Homo sapiens: one gene and its partner. The protein of the gene in region 1 interacts with the protein of each later gene in a pairwise test. Each region holds a gene or a part of one and is shown on either strand. Other genes may lie near its edges.

What was found.
Region 2: the proteins of MPC2 (region 1) and SYT16 interact in binary tests that used the Homo sapiens proteins (3 or more experiments, as listed by UniProt).

Annotation. Positions count from the first base shown.
Region 1 is NC_000001.11:167,916,343-167,920,091, forward strand, and holds the end of MPC2 (mitochondrial pyruvate carrier 2), read right to left. Parts: intron 3,749-3,749; coding exon 3,637-3,748; intron 2,018-3,636; coding exon 1,981-2,017; 3' UTR 333-1,980; downstream 1-332. UniProt on the Homo sapiens protein: Mediates the uptake of pyruvate into mitochondria.
Region 2 is NC_000014.9:61,810,703-61,814,451, forward strand, and holds the start of SYT16 (synaptotagmin-16), read left to right. Parts: upstream 1-2,000; 5' UTR 2,001-2,095; coding exon of another isoform or gene 2,096-2,108; intron 2,109-3,749. UniProt on the Homo sapiens protein: May be involved in the trafficking and exocytosis of secretory vesicles in non-neuronal tissues. Is Ca(2+)-independent.

The sequences.
Region 1 (3,749 bases):
ATTACAGGCGTGCGCCACCACACCCAGCTAATTTTTGTATTATTAGTAGAGACGGGGTTTTACCATGTTGGCCAGGCTGGTCTCGAACTCCTGCCCTCAGGTGATTCACCTGCCTTGGCCTCCCAAAGTGCTCGGATTACAGGCGTGAGCCACCGCACCTGGCCAAGATTTAATTTTTAAGATTAAAAAATTGGATAGATTAAGAGTTTTGGGGCAGAAAAGAAAAGAAGCATGTGATGGTTGTTTGTCAATGAAACTTCTGAGAAACAAGAAAGGAGGACTGCCTATGATTGTATCTAAATGCTACAACAAATTTGACTGACAAGAGGGGCTTAGGAGACCCCGCACAGAAGAGGTTTTAATGAAAAGGAAGTGAAACACCAAGCTCACATAAATTTTTAATAAACTTTTTTGTGTCTATGTCATATTTCATAATGTTTTTCCTAAATGCTTAACCTAGGAAACACATGTGTGCACACCCATGCCAAACACACAAATGAATTTAACAGTGTGGTTTATGAAATGAAAGCAATAATAGTTTGACTCTTCAGAACCTCTTCATTGTGGCCTATGTCAAGCTCTCTAATCTTTTCTCCTCAATGGTAGGCCATGGTTAAGGGACAGATGATAAAGTACAAGGTTTTCAATTGCTAACTGCCAAATTTTCATAGGTTATAGTATTACTCAAAAAGTTGTTTTGTCTCATTTCTTCAAATTTTGAAATAACTTGCTTTGCTGACTCATCTGACTATATTTTTAATGAGGACTGGCTTTATTAGCACTTTTAGAAAAAAAGCTCTGCACTCCACACTGAAAGTCAAATCAAATAGATAGTTAATTATTTGTAGCGTGGAGTAATGTATGCTCAGTCTCTCCTCACAACGGAGCCAAAGGTCACAAACATTTACAGAAAACCTACTTATGTCCCAGGTACTCTGCTAGGTACTTTCCTAACTTGTCTAAAGTCACAGCATAGGCTGGGTATGGTGGCTCATGCCTGTATTCCAGCACTTTGACAGGACGAGGCGGGCAGATCACCTGAGCCCAGGAGTTCGAGACCAGCCTGGGCAACATGACAAAACCCTACCTCTACAAAAATACAAAAATTAGCTGGGTGTGGTGGTGTGTGCCTGTAGTCCCAGCTGCTCGGGAGGCTGAGGCAGGAGGATCACTTGAGCCCAGGAGGTAGGGTTTGCAGTGAGCCGAGATTGTGCCACTGCACTCCAGCCTGGGCCACAGAGCGAGACCCTGTCTCAAAAAAAAAAAAAAAAAAAAAGTCACAACAGATAAGTCATAGAGCTGGGATTCAAATTCAGGTCTGTCTGAATATAGAGTATTTTCTGCTACATTATCAGTTACTGAGGGTAATTGAAAAATTTAACACTTATCATGGACCAGGCACTATGTTAAAACATTATCTCATTAATCTTTACAATGATCCTATTTAAAAATCTGTAGCTGTAAAAGAATTTTATACAACATTTATACAAAAATCATCAAGATTCTTCATGGCAAGTTAAAATGTTTTTAAATAGTTTGAGGTCATCTTGATAGTCATTCCACTACCCATTTCTCAGTCTCTTCAGCAAAATTTCCTTTCACTTATAGCTAGCTACCTGACCATCCTACACTAAATAAGCAGATAATTTAATCTTCCAACTTCTTGAATTTGTGTGTTCTTTTATGTACATATGTTGGCTGACTGGAACAGAAGGAGGCAGGGGGTATATACGAGCAAGTATGGTTTATTACGGACAAATGGTAGAAAAATGTTACTAATATCCATAGATAAGTTCCTTAAGTCATGTAGAGAGACTGTTATTAAAAGTTTGCTGCATTTTTCTATTGAATCAAGAACTAGCTACCAGTTACAGTGCCTTCTAAACACACAGTTAGCTTTGCTTTATCAATAACCAAATAATAAACTAGGTCCCAATGGTTTTGTCCACATCTAGATTGTTCAGGTGATCAGGAACTCTTTTATTTGTGTGCTTTAGCTTTTAGTTCTTGGTTATATCTATAAAGAAAACAGAAAGAAAAATAATCATCAATAATAATAGACAAATTTATGGTAAGGAGAGAATGGGAAGCATACTCCATTTCTTCTTTCTTGGTGGTCAAGTAGCTATACAGTTGTAAACAGAATCTTCCCGGAGGGCTTACAGGTAGAAACAGGCAGAAAGGAAAGGATTCAAAGAGTTCATTTGCATCTGGATTTTGTTTCAGATAATAAGAGCACAACTGCCAAAAACTTTTTTTTTTTTTTTTTGAGATGGAGTCTCACTCTGTCGCCCAGGCTGGAGTGTAGTGGTGTGATCTCGGCTCGCTGCAAGCTCTGCCTCCCGGGTTCACGCCATTCTCCTGCCTCAGCCCCCCGAGTAGCTGGGACTACAGGCGCCCGCCACCACTTCTGGCTAATTTTTTGTATTTTTAGTAGAGATGGTGTTTCACCGTGTTAGCCAGGATGGTCTCGATCTCCTGACCTTGTGGTCTGCCTGCCTCGGCCTCCCAAAGTGCTGGGATTACAGGAGTGAGCCACCATGCCCGGCCTGCCAAAAACTTTTAACAGCTTAGCTGACATATAGTTTCCTGTGCAAAAGTATTATTTTAATAAAAATATTCTCATTCTGGAATTCTACAAGAACGTGACAAACTTGTGAACATATGTATAAAATTTAGTAAAATGTGGTCACCTAGAATTTTAAAATTTATACTCGCAAAGCACCTTTCCTAAGAATAAGATCAACAGGTAAAGTAAAATATACTAAAGTAATCACTAAAGTAAAATATACTTCTAACCACTAAGGTAAAATATACTTCTGTGATGCAGGCAGGCTATTGGGTTAACAGCCTGTAAACACTTAAGTTCACAAACGCTAAGGACCATTTCCTCAATTCTCAATCCAAAGAAGTAACCACAGAGCCATAGTCTTTCCTTCCCTTCTACCATACCTTGGGCTTCATTTACTATTCCTCCTAGCTTATAATGGAATGGAGAGTAGTATAAAAGCATAAGAAGGAACTTATTCCATGAAGCCAACCATACCTCCTAGGTTTCTCAAAAGATCCTGATTTCAAATATTTGATCATAATGTCATTATCATAAATCACTGACAATATTAACTACTGAGTAAATAGTTTAAAAATTTCCAGTGCTCATGGAACACTTTCCAATGAAAGCAAAGACCTCACTCTACGTATCATTTCCAATACTACATAACAATACACTTAAGTTCCAATTTATTATATACAATTGAAAGTGATAAAAGGTTTACATAAGAAATTAATAAATCATAAACTGTATATGTTGTCTTAATAAAAGAGATTATGTGAGATGGTTAACCATCTAAATGATGCACAGTTAAATCTAAAAACTAGGTAACATACTGCTTAACTGATTTTAGTCAGTTAACTAGTTAACTGGTTAACTTATTTGTAAACCCCTAGACTTTTCTAGAAATGTTAAATTTCTACTTTAGATACTTCTTGTCTTAGCATTATATATGAATCTTTTAAAAAAATTAGTGCCATCTCCAGCCTGGGCAACAGAGCGAGACCCCGTCTCAAAAAAAAAAAAAATTAGTGCCATCTAAGTAGCTTTTGCAACAGTTTTAAAAATATCTCTGGTAGGCTTACCTCCAAATACGAAAAAGCTGAGAGGCTCCTGCTGCCCCCACAAAGAAATTAACAGCAAACAGACTCCAATTTTTTGGAATAATTACAAGTGAGTATCTTGACCAAATAAACCC
Region 2 (3,749 bases), on another chromosome or scaffold:
TGTTTAATTCTTTTTTCCTTTTCCCCATCCAACCCACTTCCAGAGTGTTGGCTTTTGGGTCTACTGCAGATGGTTGTTGTGAAAGACAAATGAACCAGGTCTCTGTGGTTCTTAACTAGAAGTCTGCTTCAGAATCACCTGTGTTAAAACAAATAAAGGCTAAACACAATTTAAAAAAAGGACACCCCTAAGTGCTACTCTAGGTGGACTGAATCAGAATGTGGAGCCTGATCAGAATATTCTCTCCCTCATCGTGCTCTGTGAACTGACCAGAGAGGACTCCTGTGTTGTTCTCTGGCAGTTTTCTGTCTGCCTAGCCACGTGGGAGCTAGTGGATAGGCAGACGGGAGCCTTGCTCCTGAGTCTTCTCAGCATCCAGCCCGGGGCTGATTGGGTTGAATGTGCATCTCCAAATGCATCAAATGGATTGTATCTTTGTATTTTTATTTTATTTTATTTTTAAGACAGGGTCTCATTCTGTCACCCAGGCTGGAGTGCAGTAGTATGATCTCAGCTCACTGCGGCCTTCACCTCCCAGCCTCAAGTGATCTTCCCCCTCAGCCTACTGAGTAGCTGGGACCACAGGCATGCACCACCAGCCTGGCTAATTTTTGTTTTATTTTTTCTAGAGACAGGGTCTCACTATGTTGCCCAGGCTTGTCTCAAACTCTTGGGCTCAAGCTATCCACCTGCCTAGACCTCTCAAAGTGCTAGGATTACAGGCGTGAACCCGGCCCTTTTTTCTTCTTTTAAAAACTAGGGACAGGGTCTTGCTCTTTCACCCAGGCTGGAGTGCAGTGGTGCAATCATAGTTTACTGCAGACTTGAACTCCCGGGCTAAAGTGATTCTCCTACTTTGGCCTCCCAAAGTGTTGGGATTACAGGCTTAAGCCACCATGCCTGGGCGAAATGTATTGTATCTTTAAGAAGTATCTAGCCTGCCATGTAATTTAGGGGATGTGTTTGAGCCATTTGATCCTTCACATGATGGATCTGGTGGTGGAGACGGGGGTTTCTAATGTACAACTGTCCCCTAATATATTAGGTTGGTGCAAAAGTAATGGCAGAATAATCCAATAATCCATCAGAAATTGGTTTTTGGACTTCAAGAAGATGTATACAACATCATTCTGAACTGACAGCCTCAGTTCAGAGCCCTCCTGAACCACAATGGCCTGTGAGGCACAAGACTCCGGCTCACTCATTCGGCCTGGTCCACTTACTTACTCTAGCGTCCATCCCTAGTCAGTGGCAGGGCTGTAGTTGGCTATGATCATGTATCAGTTGCTCATCCAGTGGACGTCCAATCAGTTAGTTGGCCATTCATTCATTCATTCATGCAGGCATCCAGTTATAAAGACATCCATTCACCCACTCAACAGAAATCTGCTGAGAGCCTACTACGTGCTGGGAACTATTTTCACATCGGAGACAAAACAGAGGGTGACATGAAGAGCACGGCCCACTTGGAGCCTACGGAGATGGCGTTGAGCGGTTTCGCAGGAGAGCTCCTGCCCCGGAGGATTAATGCCCAGCACCTGGCTCATCCTCCCCACACCCCTAGCTCTTCTCCCGCTTTGCTCCTTCCAGCTGGGGCTGAGCATGGGGTCCCAACCCCGCTGGTGAGAAGCTCGAGGTAGGGATGAAGCGGAGAATGGAAAAGGTGACTCGAAAACAAGGATATAGCGGGAACGTTGTAGGAAAGGTGGCGTGGAGAGGCGACCCTAGCGTGGCCGGGAGCGTGTTTCCAAGTTGCGGCGAGCATCCTCTTTGGGGGAGGGGCGGGAAAGGAAAGGAGGGGAGGGGGACGGACGCGGCGAGGCGAGGAGGGGGAGATCCAGCCTCTAGGCGCCGCAGCTCGGCCGTTCTGCCCGGGAGGCTGGGCTCTCAGGACGCCGGCGGCGGCCGCAGGGCTGGCGGCTGCTGGGCGCGGGGCGGCGCGGGGCGGCGCGGCGCGGCGGGGGCGCGCGGCAGGAGGGGCTGTGCGCGGCGCGGCCCCCGAGCGCACCGGGCCTGCCGAGGAGCGCGCGCCCGGCCGGGCTCGGCGCCGGTTTCCCGAACCTGGGCGGCCGTCGGGCAGCCCCCTCGTCCGACCATGGCGACTGACAGTGAGTGCGCTCCGGCCGCGGAGGCCAGGGGTGGGGGGAGGCCGCGGTGCCCAGGGTGGGAAGTTCGATTTCAGACGCTGCCTTTGTGCTGGCTCGCGGCAGCAGCGGCCGGGTCCCTCTCCGCTCCTCACCCTTGGCTGCCTGGCGGGGCTTGAAAGGGCAGGTGGCCCTGGCGGCGCGCCCCGCGAGGGATGTGGCAGAAGGGCGTGCGCCTGGCGCCGAGGCGGAGGGACCCTCGATGCCGTGTGGCAGCGGGGCCTGCCATCGCAGCCCTTCGCGGGCACTGCCCCCAGGCCCAGAGCCAGCCTTCAGCGAGCCGGGCAAACGAAGGCACTGCGCGTTTTTGGCGCTGTGAGTTCAAGGTTCGCCTCGAGTTCTGGGTCGGGTTTGTGCGTCTGCCTTTTGGGGATCAGGGTGGCTTGCATGGCTCGGCTGCCCGGTGGCCCACGGGCTGTATTCGCAGCGGGCAGCACAAGGCCGGCTGGAGACCGCATCTGGTTACCATGGTCAGTGGGTGGGAGGAGTGCCTGGAGACATCAGGTTGAAACTCTGAATGGAAGCGTTGGAAGGCGCTGGGTTGGCCTGCTTTTGGCATCTTGGCACCGCTGCTCTTATGGCTCAGTGCCTTTGGAAATTGGAATCCCGTCTGTGAAAACTGGTTAAGTTAGTTGCGTTTGAAGCCAGATACGTATTAGTGAAGCTTCAAAGGGAGTTCAGAGTAAAACCAAGTCACACCTGCGTACCTAGCATCCAAAGTCCCTAGCACAGGTGTGGCGCATGTTAGGGACTTCATTAGATGAGTGAATGGGGCTGGATGTGCTGGCTCAGGCCTGTAATCCCAGCACTTTGGGAGGCCGAGGCGGGAGGATCACTTGAGCCCAGGAGTGCGAGGCTGCTGTGAGCTATGACCCTGCCATTGCACTCCAGTCTGGGCCACAGAGGAAAAAAACAAAAATCAAATGGTGTGCTGGCTACAGAGGCCCTTTGGAAGGTATTTTTTTTTTTTTTTTTTTGAGAGGTGAGGAGGAAAAGAGATGGGAAAATGAGATGTCAAAATTTCTGCAATAATTTATTATTTTTCTTGTAAACAATCATCCCAGCCAAGAACACAGCTTTAGGATAGTGTGGAGAGCTTGAGTTTTTGTAGTCAAACAGACCTGTATTTTATCTCTCTAGAATTCCCTAGCAGTGGGACCATGGCACTGTCCTCAGTTTCTCTAAATTAGGACAAGGCTGTCATTCATAGCTCTTACAAGCGATGGGCACACAGGTGGCCTTCAGTAAATGGTGGTTGTCCTCTCCCTGCTGTTTTGCCATCATCTGATATGTGTGGGGATACCAACATGCTTTCCTCCTTTTTAAAGAGAAAAATGTTGATCAGGTGTTTCCAGTAAAATCAGCTAATTTGGGCCAAATTTCCCTTTCCTCAGCTCTGTTCATTTATACAAAGTGTGATTCCATTCGTGTGTGTGTGTGTTTAGAAAAAAAATTATGGTTGAAGCTTTACTTAACAAAGTAAGACTCAACAAAGAAGGAGATCATGAGATTTGGCCTTATTGTGTTATTAATGAAAAACAAAGGCAAAGGGGTTCAAAGTATCTACCAGCAACTGTGCATCACACACATGCAGTGAGACACTGT